2 linked regions of the Homo sapiens genome follow. The protein of the gene in region 1 interacts with the protein of each later gene in a biochemical or structural test. Each region holds a gene or a part of one and is shown on either strand. Other genes may lie near its edges.

What was found.
Region 2: of the proteins of LZTR1 (region 1) and MRAS, one has a biochemical effect on the other in vitro, tested with the Homo sapiens proteins (one study listed by BioGRID).

Annotation. Positions count from the first base shown.
Region 1 is NC_000022.11:20,988,797-20,992,296, reverse strand, and holds part of LZTR1 (leucine-zipper-like transcriptional regulator 1), read right to left. Parts: coding exon 3,425-3,500; intron 2,673-3,424; coding exon 2,615-2,672; intron 1,912-2,614; coding exon 1,772-1,911; intron 670-1,771; coding exon 468-669; intron 84-467; coding exon 1-83. UniProt on the Homo sapiens protein: Substrate-specific adapter of a BCR (BTB-CUL3-RBX1) E3 ubiquitin-protein ligase complex that mediates ubiquitination of Ras (K-Ras/KRAS, N-Ras/NRAS and H-Ras/HRAS).
Region 2 is NC_000003.12:138,372,367-138,376,096, reverse strand, and holds part of MRAS (ras-related protein M-Ras isoform 1 precursor), read right to left. Parts: intron 3,232-3,730; 5' UTR 3,214-3,231; coding exon 3,021-3,213; intron 1-3,020. UniProt on the Homo sapiens protein: Signal transducer in the Ras-MAPK signaling pathway that regulates cell proliferation and survival. Core component of the SHOC2-MRAS-PP1c (SMP) holophosphatase complex that regulates the MAPK pathway activation.

The DNA of each region.
Region 1 (3,500 bases):
TTGAAGCCAACCCGCTCCTCATAGGTCAGGGTGGGCACCTCCTCGGAAGCACAGGCTCGCTCGGGCACTTCAGCCCCACCAACCTGAAGAGGGGAGACACATGGGCATGAGACCAGTTGGCAAGGGCCAGGTAGGTGCCCAGAGACCCCCACCATCCTGGCCTTGAGAGTGGGTTCTGAAAGAAGGAAGAGCTGCATGGCCGTGGGCTTCCCAGGAAAGGTCTGCAGCACAGCAGCCCCATGCAGCCATGATGGGGTGTGAAGCGTTAACTACCTGCAGGCTGTGGGGTGAAGCTGGGGCTGGAGGCCGGGGCAGGTGTCCAGGGCTGAGGCCCAGGTGTCCTGGCCTTGCTCCTGGTAGCTGTCTGGAACCCCAGGGGGCCCCAAAGCTGTGAGGAGCTGGGTGGGAGCAGGGTAGGAGCTACTGGTGTCCAGCTGGCAGGTCAGGACACCCCTGGGCACCCTCACCTCGCTGTCGGAGCTGGGCTGGACGACCTCCCAGGTCTGGAAGTCCACGTCATAGCAGTGCAGCTCGTTGGGCAGCGTGTTGTCGGCCGCACCCCCAAACACATAGAGGTGGCGGTCAAAGGCCACCATGGTATGCCCGTAGCGCCGCTGCGGGGGTGGTGGGGAGCCCCGGAGCAGGTGTTCAGTTGGGATGCGTGTCCACCTGGGGGTACACAACAGTGAATCAATGCTGGGACAGGGGCTCCTGCTCACCCTCGGGGCCTCCCCACAGCAGGCCTTCACTGGGAGGTCCCCCTGCATCCCTTACGGTGACTAGCCCAGGGTCCAGAGGGAGGGCCTAGACACCTGCGCTGAGCACCTCTCACCCCATCCAGCACGGGCACCAGCCCTGCCTGGCTCCATGTGGCCCACCGCAGGGTCCTGCCAGAGCTCCCCCCTCTCCCCATGGAGCAGGCAGCAGTGATGGGCAGGAGGGTGGCATCTGACCCGCCCAGGCAGTCCTGCTCTCTGGGGAGTAAAGTTGTGCAGAGACCATTGCAGGTCACTGTGTTCACGCTGCCCAGTCAGAGCATCCCCACAGCTGAGTCCCCATCCTGGGAGCTGCCTGTACCCCACATCCTGATGCTGCCCCAGCACCTTCCACCTCCCAGGCTTCCCAGTACCTCCCAGCAAGTCCTCTCTTTTGCTAAGTTAGCTGAAGACTTCAGAACAGATCCTGGCCTGGCAGGGCTATGCCATCTGGCTCCATGCTGAGCCCCAGGCCCTTGACAATTTCCCTCATCCTGGGGCTCCCTGCCCTTCCTCCCACGCACCCGTGGCCTCCAGGGAAGCTCCCAAGTCCCTTCCCAAACCCCCTGTACCTGCAGCTCACACTCCTTGTGCCCTCTCCTGCAGCCCCATTGCAGGGATCAAGGGCTGGCCAGCAGCCAGGGGCAGCATGGGCCAGACCTCTCAGGACCTGCAGGCCCCTCTGGTCTTCTGCCATTATTTGAGATCTATGCAGGCCACGTCTGTTACTGGTGGCACTGACCAAGCTATTCACGAGGAAGGGGACGTCCTTCACGTTCAGAGGGAGGCCTAGCCAGGGGCCTCCTCGCCAGGCCTTATCTTGCTAAGCTGTAGCCATATCCTGGGGACCTGCCAGGGGCACCGCACATCCCTGCTCCGGGCTGTAACCTCCTGCTGTTTGCAGAGCTCACAAGGATGGTTACCATGGCCACCAGGTGCAAGAGGCGTTCTTCATATTCAGAAGGATTCGAGGGAACTGACCGTCCTCCCTCCACCCCACTGGCCAGAGTACTCACGTCTTGTCCTTGAATTCAAACTGGAAGAGGTTGTTGGTTATTTTGGCTCCGCTTTGCCCAGAGAATACAAACATCTTGTCCCGGCACACAGCCACGGGGAAGTTGCAGCAAGATGGGGGGATCTCGCCACTCTGGGCCACCTGCAGGGGGAGAGGACAGCTCAGCCCCGGCCTCACAGGGCCCGCTCACATTTCACCACACTCGAGACTGCTGAGATGGGACTGCTTTTATTCTTGAAACTTCCCCAGATGAGGATTCACAGATTCCTTTGTCTTGGAACAGCTCATAGCCCTGTCTCATCCACTTCACGGGGCCCAGTTGTGAACAGCTGGGGTTAAAATCGTCAGGGTTAAATCATCAGGGGCTAAACTCATGTTTTTCATGCCCAGAAGACTGAAAAACAATTTTTTTTAATGAATAAATAAATAAATTCCATGTTTCTAAAGGGGAAAGCAAGCCCAGGGGGAGCTCCAGGGAGCAGGACACTGGATAGCAGACGGCCCTCACTGCACTGAAATAAAGGGTGCGTTAAAGCAAAACCACATCCTCACACACGTGGCACTCTGCCCATCCAAAGCACCAAACCTCGAATCACTGTGCAGCCACAGTGAGGAACTGGTCGTGAAGGCCCGCAGGTCACCAGGGAGGAGAGCGAGGCTCAGGTCGAGGCTGGGCTTTGCAAGGGGAAGAAAGCAGCCTCGACCCCCAGCCTGGCTCCCCCTGCCTCCCACCTCCCTCCACCTGCACCCTGTCTCCCCATGCCCCTCACCTCCTCCACCTGCGCCCTGGCTCCCCGTGCCCCTCACCTCCTCTACCTGCGCCCTGGCTCCCCACGCCCCTCACCTCCTCCCAGCAGGTGAGCTCTCGGTCCTGGAGGCCAATTGTCCACATGTCATTCAACCTGTATTAGGACAGACCAGTGAGGACCCCTTGGGTCTGGTGGTCAGGGTGGGCCTAGTCCTGGCTGGAAGGGATGGCTGCAGGGAGGAGCCCCACCCCCACACAGGGTAGGAGACTTGTGCGGCCATGAGGCGGGAACTTCTGTGTGGGGTGGCAGCCACTGCCTCAAATCCCTGCTGTGCCAGGCCCCCTGCCCGGCCCAGACAGAACAAGTACTCTCATGCATGACATCAGGGCAGTGTGGCAGTGCCAGCTCCTCACTCAGTGTCCCTCCTGGGTGGGGAGAGGACACAGATATCCCAGATGCCACCATCACTGCATCGTTAGGAGTTTCTATGATGCTGAAGTTTTGGGAAACCAGCATATGCTACTTTTGTGATCAGAAAAAGAGAGCAAAGCCAACTTTCTAAAATAAGGAGGAAAAGGCCTTTGGCCTGGGCAAGAACCAGGGCTGGGCCTGAGCCTGGGCACCGCCCACCCGCCCACCAACTCAGCTCCGCAGGGCAACTCCTGGCTGAGGATCCTCATCCAAGCTACTCTGGTAGCCACGGGGCTCCACCCAGTGGCCCTCACCTCCATCTGTCCATCCTCCTCTTTCCCCATCCCCCTCCCAAGAAACCCCCAGACAGAGTGGCACTCAAAATCCACCAGGCACTCAAAATCCTCCCAGCCTAAGCCCTCAAATGCCAGGACGGCCTGCTCCGGGTCTCAGTGCTGTCGGAGGTGGGGTGCACAGGCCGGACCACCACCCACCTGGCGTTGCCGTCATAGCCAGCAAAGATCCACAGCTTGTCACTGTACACCGTGGCCCCATGGGCTGACCTAGCGA
Region 2 (3,730 bases), on another chromosome or scaffold:
TTAAAATTGAGATACAATCTACATGCCATAATATTAATACTTTAAAAGTATATAATTCAGTGCTTTTAAAACATATTTACAAAGTTTTTTTGTTTTGTTTTGTTTTTTTGAGAGGGAGTCTCACTCTGTTGCCCAGGCTGGAGTGAGGTGGCGCAGTCTCGGCTCACTGCAATCTTTGCCTCCTGAGCTCAAGTGATTCTCCCACCTCAGCCACCCGAGGCTAATTTTTATATTTTTAGTTGAGATGGGGTTTCACCACGTTGCCCAGGCAAGTCTCAAACTCCTGAGCTCAAGCAATCTGCCCACCTCAGCCTCCCAAAGTGTTGGGATTTACAGGCCTTGTAAGCCACAGCGCCCAGCCACAAAGTTGTATTTTTTTGAAGTCATGATTTGGTTCTGCTTCTGGCCAAGATGGAGTGACAGGGACCAGATTTACGTTCTCAGCTGAAACAACCAACAGACAGACAAAATATGTGGGAGGACTGCTTCAGCCCAGAAGGTCTAGGCTGTGGTGAGCCTTGATCATGCCACTGCACTCCAGCCTGGGTAACAGAGCGAGACCCTGTCTCAAAACAAAAACAAAAACATCTTCCCACAAAGAAAACTCCAGGGCCAGATGGCCTTGTTTGTGAATTCTACTAAACAGTTAGGGAAGAAATACCAATTTAACTCAAACTCTTCCAGAAAATTGAATAAAACTCGTTCTATGAGGCCAACATTACTCTGATACCAAAATTAGACACAGACATTACAAGAAAACTATAGACCAATATTTCACAAGAACACAGACATAAGAATTGTAAACAAAAGTTTAGCAAATCAAAGCCAACAATATTAAAGGATAATACATCATGACCAAGTGGGGTTTATTCCAGGGATGCAATTTTGGTTTAATATTAAAAAAATCAAGGACCAGGGATGGTGGCTCACACCTGTAATCCCAGCACTTTGGGAGGCTGAAATGGAAGGATTGCTTGAAGCCAAGAGTTCAAGACCAGCCTGGGCGACAATGGGAGATTCCCCCCAATCTTCACAAAAAAATAAAATATTAGCCGGGCACAGTGGTGTGTGCCTACAGTCCTAGCTACTGGGGAAGCTGAGGCAAGAAGATCTCTTGAGCCCAGTATTTTGTGGTTGCAGTGAGCTAAGATCATGCCACTGTGCTCCAGCCTGGGTGACAGTGCAAGACTCTGTCACAAAAACAAAACAAAACAATCAATGTAATTTACCACATTAACAAACTAAAAAAGGAAAACCATTTGGTTATCTCAGTAGACACAGAAAAAGCACTGGACAAAATCCAACATCCATGCCTGATAAAAACTCTCAGCAAACTAGAAATAGAAAGGAACTTCCATGACCTGATAAAGGCCATCCATAAAAGGCCTGCAACTAACATCATACTTAATGCTAAAGACCAAACACTTACCCCTTAAGATCAAGAACAAGACAAGGATGTCTGTTCTTGTTACTTCTTTTCAACAGGATGCCAGAGATTTTAATCAATGAGATAAGGCAAGAAAAAGAAATAAGAGCCATCCAGATTGGAAAAGAAGAAGTAAAACTGTCTTTACTTGCAGTCACTATGGTCTATTCAGAAAAATCCAGCAGAATCTACAAAAAAGATACTAGAACTAGTAACTGAGTTTAGCAAAGTTGTAGGTTACAAGATTAATATACAGAAACCTATTGTTTTTATATATACTAGCAACAAACAACTGAAAATTGAAATAAAAAACCAAAAATAATAATTTACGGTAGCATCAATACAGATACAGGTATAAAACTGACAAAACATGTAAAAGACCTATGCACTGAAAACTACAAATAAGCCAGGCGTGGTGGTTCATGCCTGTAATCCCAGCAGTTTGAGAGGCTGAGGCTGAGGCAGGCGGATCACGAGGTCCGGAGATCGAGACCATCCTGGCCAACATGGTGAAACCCCGTCTCTACTAAAAATACAAAAAAAATTTAGCTAGGTGTGGTGGTGCGTGCCTGTAATCCCAGCTACTTGGGAGGCTGAGGCAAGAGATTTGCTTGAACCCGAGAGGCGGAGGTTGCGGTGAGCTGAGACTGCACCACTGCACTCCACCAACCTGGTGACAGAGCGAGACTCCGTCCCCCCAAAAACAAACAAACAAACAAAAAAACCTACAAATAAAACTGACAAGAGAAAGAAGACCCAAATAAACAAATAAATAAATAAATAAATAAATAAATGGAAAGAGATACTGTGTTCATGGGTTGGAAGCCTCAACATTGTTAAAATATCAACTCTCCTCAAACAGATCTACAGTTTCAACACAATCCCAATCAAAATCTAGAATTTTAGAATTTAACTGATGCTAAAACTCACATAGAAATACCTTAGGACCTAGACCAGTCAAAACAACTTTGAAAAATAACGAAGTTGAAGATTTAATACTCCCTGATTTCAAGCATCTCCTCGAGGGTGTGTTAAAACACAGGGTGTTGGGCCCACCCTCAGAATTTCCAAATCAGTATGGGCCTGAGGATGTGCATTTCTAATTAGTTTCCTGATGCTGCGGCTACTGCTGGCCTGGCTGCCACACTTAGAACTAGTAATCCAGACTAATTCACACTCAGCTAGAAACACAATGTCAGATGCAAGAGATTCCCCTCAAAGGACAAGTACCAAGTAAACTATGCTCATTAAGAAACAACTTGCTTTTCCCTTTTTTATTAGCTAAAGACATCCATAACTGTTAATCAGAGATTCTGATCAGCAAGAAAAAACACACATGACATCACTGAGTTGGCATGATTCTAGCCTCCCCTCTTTGCTGAATGCACATTTTGGTTTCCACGAAATCTTGCAAGCCCTCTACGCAGGCCTTCCCTGTTGAGAATTCACCCTGAAAACGACACACGGCTTTATATCAACCATCCCATAACAGCAACATTAAGGAAACCATCTTGCCCCACTGAAACCTGTCAAATTTCCCTGATCCTCCCCATCTACTATCCCACCCAATGCAGGGCTGCCACCCAGGTCTCACCGTCCAAGATGGCCCATTGATTGTCAATCTCCGTATGTTTCAGGTAGGAGTCTTCAATGGTGGGGTCATAGTCAGGCACAAAGATCTTCTGGAAAAACTGGATGGTGAGGGCACTTTTGCCCACACCCCCATCCCCCACCACCACCAGCTTGTATGTGGGGAGGTTGTCACTGGGGACGGCGCTGGTTGCCATGTTTCTCGTAGGTCAGACCTGCGGCAGCAAGACATGTGGAATGAGACAGAGGGCTTTTTTAACTTAGGGGAAAATATTCATATGTTTTCCTCCTTTATAAAGTAATACTCTCAATTATAAAGAGGTTTGAAAATGAAGAAATGCAAAAGAAAATAAAAGCATTACCCCTGGTCTCACTAGCCAGAGACAGTCCACTGTTAAAGTGATTTATTCAACCATCATTTATTCAACACCAATTATGTGCCAGGCCTGGTGTTGAGGACACAGTACCACTGGTCTTGTTTAGCAAGTATAGCCAAAAGCCATGTCAAATAAGCTTTTTGGCCACTAAACTCTACTTGTACAGGTTAACACGAGGGCAGTGGTCTGAGCAGGGCTGGCATGGAGGTTCATCTTTCACATCCCCTCTTATTAACTGGGCTGCTATGCTGAGAAGGATTTGAAGCTGTGTCTAAGCTTAGAAAGGGGGCCATGATAGCTTAGCACACCTGAGCTCTGGGACTCTGAGGCCCCTTCC